Homo sapiens: one gene and its partner. The protein of the gene in region 1 interacts with the protein of each later gene in a pairwise test. Each region holds a gene or a part of one and is shown on either strand. Other genes may lie near its edges.

The links.
Region 2: the proteins of PRKD3 (region 1) and DLAT interact in a two-hybrid assay, tested with the Homo sapiens proteins (one large-scale study listed by BioGRID and IntAct).

The regions. Positions count from the first base shown.
Region 1 is NC_000002.12:37,271,918-37,277,137, forward strand, and holds part of PRKD3 (serine/threonine-protein kinase D3), read right to left. Parts: intron 3,928-5,220; coding exon 3,850-3,927; intron 2,781-3,849; coding exon 2,504-2,780; intron 516-2,503; coding exon 463-515; intron 1-462. UniProt on the Homo sapiens protein: Converts transient diacylglycerol (DAG) signals into prolonged physiological effects, downstream of PKC. Involved in resistance to oxidative stress.
Region 2 is NC_000011.10:112,031,251-112,036,470, reverse strand, and holds part of DLAT (dihydrolipoyllysine-residue acetyltransferase component of pyruvate dehydrogenase complex, mitochondrial isoform 2 precursor), read right to left. Parts: intron 3,068-5,220; coding exon 2,941-3,067; intron 1-2,940.

The DNA of each region.
Region 1 (5,220 bases):
TTAATTTATTCATAATTCCTTAAGAGTCCATTTCCTGCTTCCCTGTTTGTTCATCCTAGTGCTCCTGTACTTGCATGAAAGGTTGTTCCCCAACCCTCATCCATTCAGCACTTCTGTCAGTAATCCATTCCATCCTTTCAGGTATAGCTCAAATTGCACTTCCTTTAGGAAGCTTCCCCTGCTGACCCCACAAGAAGTAATGTCTGCCTTCTCTTTGAACCAGTCTTATCACTTTGTAACACTGTAATGTAACTTTTTCTAGTGAAAAAGTTAGCTTTATTTTTAATTTTAAAAATCTGCCCTAGTTTCCTCTATAAAGCAGAACTCCTTAGGGAAGTTACCAACCGCAAAGTCTAGCCTAGTACTTTGGGCGATGAACCAATTTCTCTAATAAAGATTTTCACCTTTTATTTTCCTTATTTTAATCACCCAGTTTACACATTAGCTATAACGATTACTTACCACATTCTCCTGAATCTGACAATTAGATACAGAGATACTTGTAGACAAATCTTCTGTAAAATATAAAAAAGACAAAATTTAGTATATGACAATATTATTAATCTTTACTGACATGTGAATGCTCATGGTATATCAAACTTTAAAAAGTTTAGCACACAGTTAATACAATTATGTACATTAACAAAATCTACACATACAACCCATCAACAGGAAACTAGATAAAATATGATACATCCATACAAAAGAATACTATCTCAACATTTAATCGATGATGTAGGACTATAAATACTGAATCAGAAAGTCAGAAAGCTAGTTATGATTATTACTGAGTTAAAAAGGGAAGTTTTACTGTAATCCCAGTGCATTAGGACGCTGAGGCAGGAGGATCACTTGAGCCCAGGAGTTTGAGACCACCTGGGCTACAGGATACCCTATCTCTAAAAAAATTTTAAAATTAGCCAGGCATAGTGGTGTGCACCGGTAGTCCTAGCTACTCAGGAGGCTGAGACAGGAGGATCTGAGCCCTGGAGTTTGAGGTTGCAGCAAGTTATGATTTGCGCACTGCACTCTCACCTGGGCGACATAGCGAGACCCTGTCTCTTGGTGGGGGGAGGGGGGGAAGTGGAGTCAAGGGAATTGCAGGGTAGCAGTGCTTAAATTAAAAACAAAAATCTGTGATTACTTTTGGTGAGTGGAAGAGGTGGGGTTGGGGGACAAAGAGTTTTTATACACTTCTAAATTGCTTGCATTTTTATAATTTTATAATGTTGTTTTTTGGTACTTTAATACATTTATTGCCTGAAATAAATCACCTCATTTATCTTTTAAAGAGTGTGTAAGTGCCTGTATTGTTTTCTGAGGAAACAGTCCTAGTTTTAATTAGAATGACATAGAGTTCTGTCTAAAAACCTCGAAAACTTAAGAACCACTGTGAAACATCCATCTACTTACACCCATTCCAACCCCAAATCAGTACTGAACACCAAACATGTACACAGTTGTCATGATCCTCATCACACTTGTCTCAACTAAATAATGTTACCCCTCCACCCCTCCCACTGAGATCTGCCTACTGTATTTCTACCTGAGGTTCAAATCAGGTTCTTCTATGAAGTCTTGTTTACTCTTCTGTCTGTATCTGAGTTTTTTAAGTAATGTATTCCTCACTTTTGCACTGTACTGCTTTATGCTACCATCTAATACCTTTATATATCCCATCTCTCCCTAAAGAGCTTTTATGATTTCTGTATTTATTTTGTATTTTAGCTCAGGGCCTAGCATAATAGTTGTACAAAATAATACAGCTAAACTAAAATAAACTACCTTTGGAAAGTTGTTGATACTTATTTCAATTTGAGTATATTTCTCAAATGAATGACTTATGTGTCCCCATAAGCAACATAATGTTAATGGGGGAGAAGTGACATTATAGTGACCTTTCGATTGTTAACTGTTTACTTTTGAAACTTTATCCAATTTAGGCTTAATTATATAAGTTTTGTTGGTGCAAAACATGTTTCAGTGATTTTTAAATATTTCTGTATGTTTTAATACAGCATTTCTGACTTCACAGATTTCATGAGTGTGATGTGAACCATAATACTTTATTGCCTGTTTATATCCCACTATAAAGCAAAATATTAATACCAGTAGCAGGCATAATCCAATGAGACTTTACGGATGCCAAGCACTGTTCTGTATCTTACAGGTTCTCTTTCATTTAATACTGACAACCTTATGAAGTACTTACTACTACAGTGAGGTAAAGTACTTGCCTGATCATATAACAGATGGTATAGCCAGGATTTTCATGTAGGAAAACTGACTCTGGAGCCTAGCACTGGGCATTGTATGTACGTATATATACTATAACCAATATAATTTTATAAAAGAGTTAACTAATTGTATTGGTTACTAAAGTATTGGTTACTAAAGACTAAGCTTAGGATGAACATTAAAAGGAACAAAGGAACACAACCATACCCACAAAATGCTTAAGAATTAAAGAGGAGAAAAAGCCATCAAGAAGTTTATTGCTTACTGTGATCTTTCCCTTGCCCTGGAGAAGTGCAAACACTTGCTTGAGGAGTAACAGGCATGAGGGCTTGGCGAATTGCTTTTTCCCAGCTCTGTGCTACATCAAGTCCAACTCCAGTGGCAGCAAGAACAGGATTATGAGAGCTGTCCCCATTGTTCTCACCAACGAAGTATACCATAGTATCAGTAATGATTTCAAAACAGTGTGGATTGCTGCCTTGTGAAATGTTTGTGAAATCTCGTGGTGAAGATATGCGGAGAATTTCTGAAAGTGGAATTTCCTGAAGTAAAAAATTAAGCATTGAAAAATAAGAATAGATCTTTGTTTTTATTTTTAAATACACTAAAGAACCAGAGATATGCATTTCAATGAATGCCATTAAGACGGACACAAGTATGCAACATTTAATACACAGTTGAGTCTTATGACATGGCCTGTCTTGAATGAGCTGCAATGTCCAGCAATGCCAGACGCAGAGCATGGACTATGATAACTAAGCCAGTAGCAGATCATTAGGATGCAAGGAAGAAGATATAGGAGAGTAATCTGCCACTATATCCAACACTTGTAACTTCCAACTGTCATTAATTCAGCTTCACAACTACTTATCTAGTGACTGTAGTCTACAAGATATAGCCCCAAAGCAAGTAAGAAGCAGAAATAATGGCAGAAAAAGCAGAATCTTGGTCAGTTGTTTAAGCCACTCCCATTCTGGTTCTGTCCACTGGAGTAACCTGTAGCAATCATTATATTTTTAGTCCACTTCCTAAGGCAAAAAAAAAAACTTACTAAAAACAAACAAACAAAAAAACACCTGCTCAAAGCAAGCCATTAGTTCCCATTCTCTCTTACTGACCTAACTGCTTGGTTATAATCTTGCTTGCTATCAGTTTGTGATGTGGCAAAACGTGGAATAAGCCAAGCAAGGAAGACTGTAAAAAGGAGATTAAGAGCCAAACAAGCAATTGGGAATTGGCACCCAAGGTAAGGTGGAAGGTGGGAGAAATACTAAATACCTCACTGACCTCTTCTGGACAGTCAATGATGATGGGACTTTCTAAGCAGTCTAATCTAAATCAGAGTATCCAGAAGGAAAGCAGCAGCAACCTGACAGGCAAGCCAGAAATAAATAAATACACGACAACAACAAACAGTCTGGAAGGAGAGCTGCTGTGGGGGAGTGAAATTTGGTATGGGAAATAGTTGCTTCAACAAGGAACCTAACAGTGACTTCTATAAACCATACTAGCTAGAGTCATATATATTCAAATATAACAGTTAATGAATATTATCTGAAAAAAACATACACTATCTTAATGCTTATATTTTTTAAAGTGTAAAATCCTTACCTTATAATACTTTGATCCAGATTCATTCTGAAATAATGTTAGACATTTGCTGTCAAGTCTCCAATAATGCCTCTTTCTCTATAAAATGAAGATTGGAAAACTGTGAGGTTCAAAAATGATTCCTCCAAAGTGCTTGTACCTAACTTTTCCCTTCATTTACATTCATAAATTTGTATTTTTGAATAACTTTAAGATTCATGAGGTTCAAAATTCTCAAGATATAAAAAGGATGTATGGTGAAAAGTATCACTTCCACCATCACTCATCCCCACTCCTCACCCTTACTCCAGGCAAAGCATGTTATCAGGTTTCTGGGAATCCTTGTAGAGAATTTCATACATGCACACATGAATACATATATATATATGACACATACACACACACACATAAAAATATGTAATTTACCTATAGGCTATATTTCTAGAAGTTGATTTGCTGGGTCAACAGACATGTGCACATGTAATTTTGCCTGATAGTGTTATATTATTCTACACAAGATTTGACCCAATTTATAGTCTCTTCAGCAACGTATGAGAGTCCCTAGTTACTCACACCCTCATTAATGCAGTATGTTAATAACTTTTTGATCTTTGCTATACTGAAAAATAAACACTGGTATTTCAGTGAAAGGTTAAAGTGATATTCCTTTTATTATAAATGAAATCAAGTTCTTATGTGTAAGAGTCATTTGTATTTCCTGTGAAACTCTCTGTTCATATTCTTTGTCCATTTTCCTATTGCGTTATGTTCTTTTTCTTATCAATTTGTTGGCATTCTTCACATCTTATGGAATTAACCCTTGTTTAGAATGAGCTGAAAATATTTTTTCCAGTTTCTCATTTGTCTTTGCTTTTGGATTTTGCCACATATCATTTTTTAATGAGATTGAATTTATTGATCTTTTATTCTTGAATTTGTAAAATAATTCTCCCAAAGTTTCTTCTGTTTAATTTCTTTACACTCAAATCTTTGATACATTTAGGTTTATTATGTATAAAGTATGAGGTGTGTGTATATATGTATATATACACACACACACATACACATATATATACATATATATTCATATATATACATATATATAACTTTATTTTTTTCAAAATGGCTAGATGCTTGTCCCAACACCATTTACTGAATTAACTACTTTCCCCATTAATTTGATGTAAAAGCACCTTTGATATACCATTAAATTCGCAAAGGTAGGCACACCACTTCAAGTTACATTCGCAAGGATATGAACTATAAATAAAACACATACACACTGCAGTCTATACTGTTGTTATCATACAAAACTTTAGGCCAGCTAAATGTATTGGGTACTTCATTTTATTCTTAAAAGGTTTATTAGAAAGCTTGTTTCAATAATCTACT
Region 2 (5,220 bases), on another chromosome or scaffold:
GAGACCGAGGCGGGTGGATCACCTGAGGTCGGGAGTTCGAGACCAGCCTGACCAACGTGGAGAAACCCCGTCTCTACTAAAAATACAAAATTAGCCAGGCATGGTGGCGCATGCCTGTAATCCCAGCTACTCGGGAGGCTGAGGCAAGAAAATCACTTGAACCCAGGAGGTGGAGGTTGTGGTGAGCCGAGATCGTGCCATTGCACTCCAGCCTGGGCAACAAGAGCGAAACTCCGTCTCAAAAAAAAAAAAAAAAAAAAAAAAAAAAACACACACACACACACACACACACACACACACACATATATACACACACATATATATATATACACACACATATATATATGTTTAAGTCTGGAGATATATATATATATGTTTAAGGCTGGGCACGGTGGCTCACGCCTGTTATCCCAGCACTTTGGGAGGCCAAGGTAGGTGGATTACCTGAGGTCAGGAGTTCAAGACCAGCCTGGCCAACATGGTGAAACCCCATCTCCACTAAAAATACAAAAATTAGCCAGGCATGGTGGCAGGCGCCTGTAATCCCAGCTACTTGGGCAGCTGAGGCAGGAGAATTGCTTGAACCCGGGAGGTGGAAATTGCAGTGAGCCAAGATCATGCCATTGCACTCCAGCCTGGGCGACAAAGCAAGACTCTATCTCAAAAAAAAAAAAAAAAAAGGCTGGGTGCGGTGGTGGCTCACGCCTGTAATCCCAGCACTTTGGGAGGCACAAGGCAGTCAGATCACGAGGTCAGGAGTTCAAGACCAGCCTGGCCCACATAGTGAAACCACATTTCTACTAAAAATACAAAAATTAGCCGGGCGTAGTGGCATGCACCTGTAGTCCCAGCTACTCAGGAGGCTCAGGCAGGAGAATCGCTTGAACCCAGGAGGCAGAGGTTGTGGTGGGCCGAGATCACGCCACCGCACTCCAGCCTGGACAACAGAGCCAGACTCTGTTTCCAAAAAAAAAAAAAAGAAGTGTTTAAAATGAAAAGGCTCCTGGGCCACAATAGACTTCAAAGTTCAACCAAGGTAACACTTCTCTAGTGACTAGTCTCTATAGTGACACTGGTATTCAAGTTAAATGGTGAAGCAGAACTACTGTTTCCAAAGTTTCTGTGTTTTTAAGAAACAGAATCCTTTCTTCAAATAAAATTTATGGGGAAGCACAAAATACAAAAAGATAGAAAAGAACTGCTCTGCTGGAAGTAAGGCAGGGAGGCAGGGCTGTAAGGTCCTGCTCTTTAATTCCCCCTTTGCCTCAAGGTGCCTTAAAGGAATGATGGGATTTGAAGAACACAATCTGAAAACAACCAAGGCAGAGGATGCCCAGTACCTCCCATTACATCTTTGGGAAAGGCTTCCCTTTGGTGGTGATTATGAAGCAGAGAGGCTGGGTGCGGTGGCTTATGCCTGTAATCCCAGCACTTTGGGAGGCCGAGGCAGGCAGATCACCTGAGGTTAAAGAGCTCGAGACCAGCCTGGCCAACATGGTGAAACTCCATCTCTACTAAAAATGCAAAAAATTAGCCAGGCATGGTGGTGCATGCCTGTAGTCCCAGCTACTCGGGAGGCTGAGGCAGGAGAATTGCTTGAACCCAGGAGGCGGAGGCTGCAGTAAGCCAAGATCGCACCACTGTACTCAAGCCTGGGTGACAGAGCAAAACTCTGTCTCAAAAAAAAAAAAGAAAAAGCGGGGGTGCAGAGAGAAGAAATTCATAATACTACAAATCGCCATGGCTCACGCCTGTAATCCCAGCGCTTTGGGAGGCCAAGACAGGTGGATCACGAGGTCAGGAGATCAAGGCCATCCTGGCTAACACAGTGAAACCCCATCTCTACTAAAAATACAAAAAATTAGCCAGGCGTGGCAGCGGGCACCTGTAGTCCCAGCTACTCGGGAGGCTGAGGCAGGAGAATGGCGTGAACCCAGGAGGTGGAGCTTGCAGTGAGCTGAGACTGCGCCACTGCACTCCAGCCTGGGCAACACAGCGAGACTCCGTCTCAAAAAAAAAAAAAATAATAATAATAAATATATTATTGTCTATATGGGTTTTTTTAGCCTAAAAATGAATTAAGAAGGAGATATGTGGACATATGACATATCTGAACATATATATATTACACACATACATTCTATCAGTCATTCTCAAACTATGAAAACAATCTCAACCCTGGTTTCAGTTTTCCCTCAAAGTCATCTTAAATTCTTTGCTATTATCCTGCCATGGAAGTGATTTTCTCCTGTTTCTTCTTGACTTCCTTTGCCTAGTTTAGACAGCAGCAATTCTGATATAGCTTCTCAGTAACATAATAAGGCCAAGAAGCAAACTTGGGCCTAAAAATAATCTGTGAATTGACAGATTGATTGCCTTTGATTCAGTGAGCACAGGATGGAACTGACAAATCTGACTACGCATTATTTTTGTTATAAATTATGCTGGGCCAGGAACAGGGGCTCACGCTTGGAGTCCCAGCACTTTGAGAGGCCAAGGCAGGAGGATCGCTTGAGCCAGGAGTTCAAAACCAGCCTGGGCAATAAAGTGAGACCCCATCTCTACAAAAAATTTAAAAAATCAGCTAGGTGTGGTGGTTCAGGCCTGTAGTCCTACCTACTTGTGAGGCTAAAGCAGGAGGATCATTTGGGCATAAGCCCAGGAGTTCAAGGCTACAATGAGCTATGATCTTGCCACCGCACTCCAGCCTGGGCAACAGATTAAGACCCTGTCTGAAAAATAAGCAAATAAACAAATAAATAAATAAAAACTAAAGAATACATATAACTAAATAAAAATAAAATATTCTGTCCCAGAAAATGAATCCTAAGAATTATAAAGTTTTCATATTATCACTCACTCATTATAGGAAAGAATGGCAATCCTCTTCCTCATTGGGAAACTCAGTGCCTCAACCATTAAGAGCTGAAGAAATCTCACCTATAGTGGCTTTGTCAGTTTCTATCTCTGCCAGTAAGTCTCCTTCACTTAGCTTCTCACCCACTTTTTTTTCCCATCTCTGAACTGTGCCCATGGTCATGGTGGGAGAGAGGGCAGGAAGAAGTACCTGCAGAAACAAACACATATTATTGCTTAATACCAGGAAGACTTCTACATAATAAAAGTCTGGCAGACTTATGTGGTTTCATAGAATGATGGTGACTATGATAATCCAAATACTCACCACAGCAAAAGCTTCACACCTCAATAGCTTCCCACCAGGTAAATCATCCTTCAAATCTCATACTCTGACCCATACTCTTATACTCTCGCCCACACTCTAACACACACTCCAAGTTAAATGCAACAAGCACATGGGAAAGATTTCTTTCAGACAGTCAAAATTAATTTCTCAACATCTAAGTATGGAGCATCTTTTCATCTATTTTTATTTTTATTTTTATTTTGAGACAGAGTCTTGCTCTGTCCCCCAGGCTGGAGAGCAATGGCGCAATCTCGGCTCACTGCAACCTCCACCTCCTGGTTTCAAGTGATTCTCCTGCCTCAGCCTCCCGAGTAGCTGGATTACAGGCGGGTGCCATCATGCCCACTAATTTTTGTATTTTTGTAGAGATGGGGTTTTACCATGTTGGCCAGGCTGGTCTCTGAACGCCCATCCACAAGTAATCCGCCCGCCCTGGCCTCCCAAAGTGCTGGGATTACAGGCGTGAGCCACCGCGCCCAGACTTCATTTTTTTTTAACCAAGAAGTTTTTCATTTTCACAAAATGACCTTGGTCCAAACCATTCTGTTAAAATTTTACTGCGCTCTGTACTTAGCATCTACCTATTTTTTACCCACAGGAAACTGCATTTGTCCCAACCTTACCAGATATCTTTCCAAGATAAAAACGTAATATTAAGAACTGTTCTGTGCTCGCTTCAGCAACACATATACTAAAATTGGAACGATATAGAGATTAGCATGGCCCCTGCGCAAGGACAACAAATTCGTGAAGCATTCCATATTAAAAAAAAAAACATTATTTGGTGACAATAGTTAATAACAATGTATTGTATTCTTGTAAATTCCTGACAGTAGATTTTTAAGTGGCCTAAAAGATAAGTCTATAAAGTAATGCATATATAAATTAGCTCAATCTAGCCATTCCACAATATATACATATTTCAAAACAACTTGTTGTATATAATATATGTACACAGAATTCTTACACAGAATTTTATTTGATAATTTTTTTTTTTTTTGAGATGGAGTCTTACTCTGTTGCCCAGCCTGGAGTGCAGTGGCATGATGATCATTCAAAAAAATAAAACAGGAGGCCAGGCACAGCTGTTCACATCTGTAATCCCAGCACTTTGGGAGGCCAAGGATCACTTGGGAGGGGCGGATCACTTGAGGCCAGGAGTTCAAGACCAGCCGGGCCATCATGTCGAAACCCCCTCCTCTGCTAAAAATACCAAAATTAGCTGGGCATGGTGACACCCACCTGTAGTCCCAGCTACTCAGGAGGCTGAGGCATGAGAATCGCAGAGGTTGCCGTGAGCCAAGATCGTGCCACTACACTCCAGCCATGGTGACAGAGCAAGACTGTCTCAAAAAAAAAAAAAAAAAAAAAAAAAAAAAACAGGAAAGACCAGCATGGTGGCTCATGCCTATAATCTCAGCATTTTGGTAGGCTGATGCAGGAGGATCACTTGAGCCCAGGAGTTCACGACCAGCCTGAGCAACATGATGTAACCTCATCTCTTAAAAAAAAAAAAAAAAAAAAATTAGCTGGGCATGGTGGCACGTGCCTGTAGTCACAGCGTCTTGGGAGGCTGAGGTGGGAGGATGGCTTGAGCCAGGAGGTCAAGGCTACAGTGAGCTAAGATTGCACCACTGCACTCCAGCCTAGGTGAAGAGTGAGACCCTATCTCAAAAAATAAAATAGCTAGGTGTGGTGGTATGTGCATGTATTCCCAGCTAGTCGGGAGGCTGAGGCAGGAGAATCGCTTGAACCCAGGAGGCAGAGGTTGCAGTGAGCCGAAATCATGCCACTGCACTCCAGCCTAGGTGATGGAGTGAGACCCTGTTTCAAAAAATAAATAAATAAAAATAAAAAACCAGGGGTAAAAAAAGCCCTGTTTTTATAATAGCCATTTCCACCCCAATAATATCCAAACATCAGAATGCCTATCTAAATGTAAAATTGCTTTACTATTTATATGGCTTGTGTATCCACTGAATTTGGTTTCATTTGCTATCCTCTTTGTCTTCTGT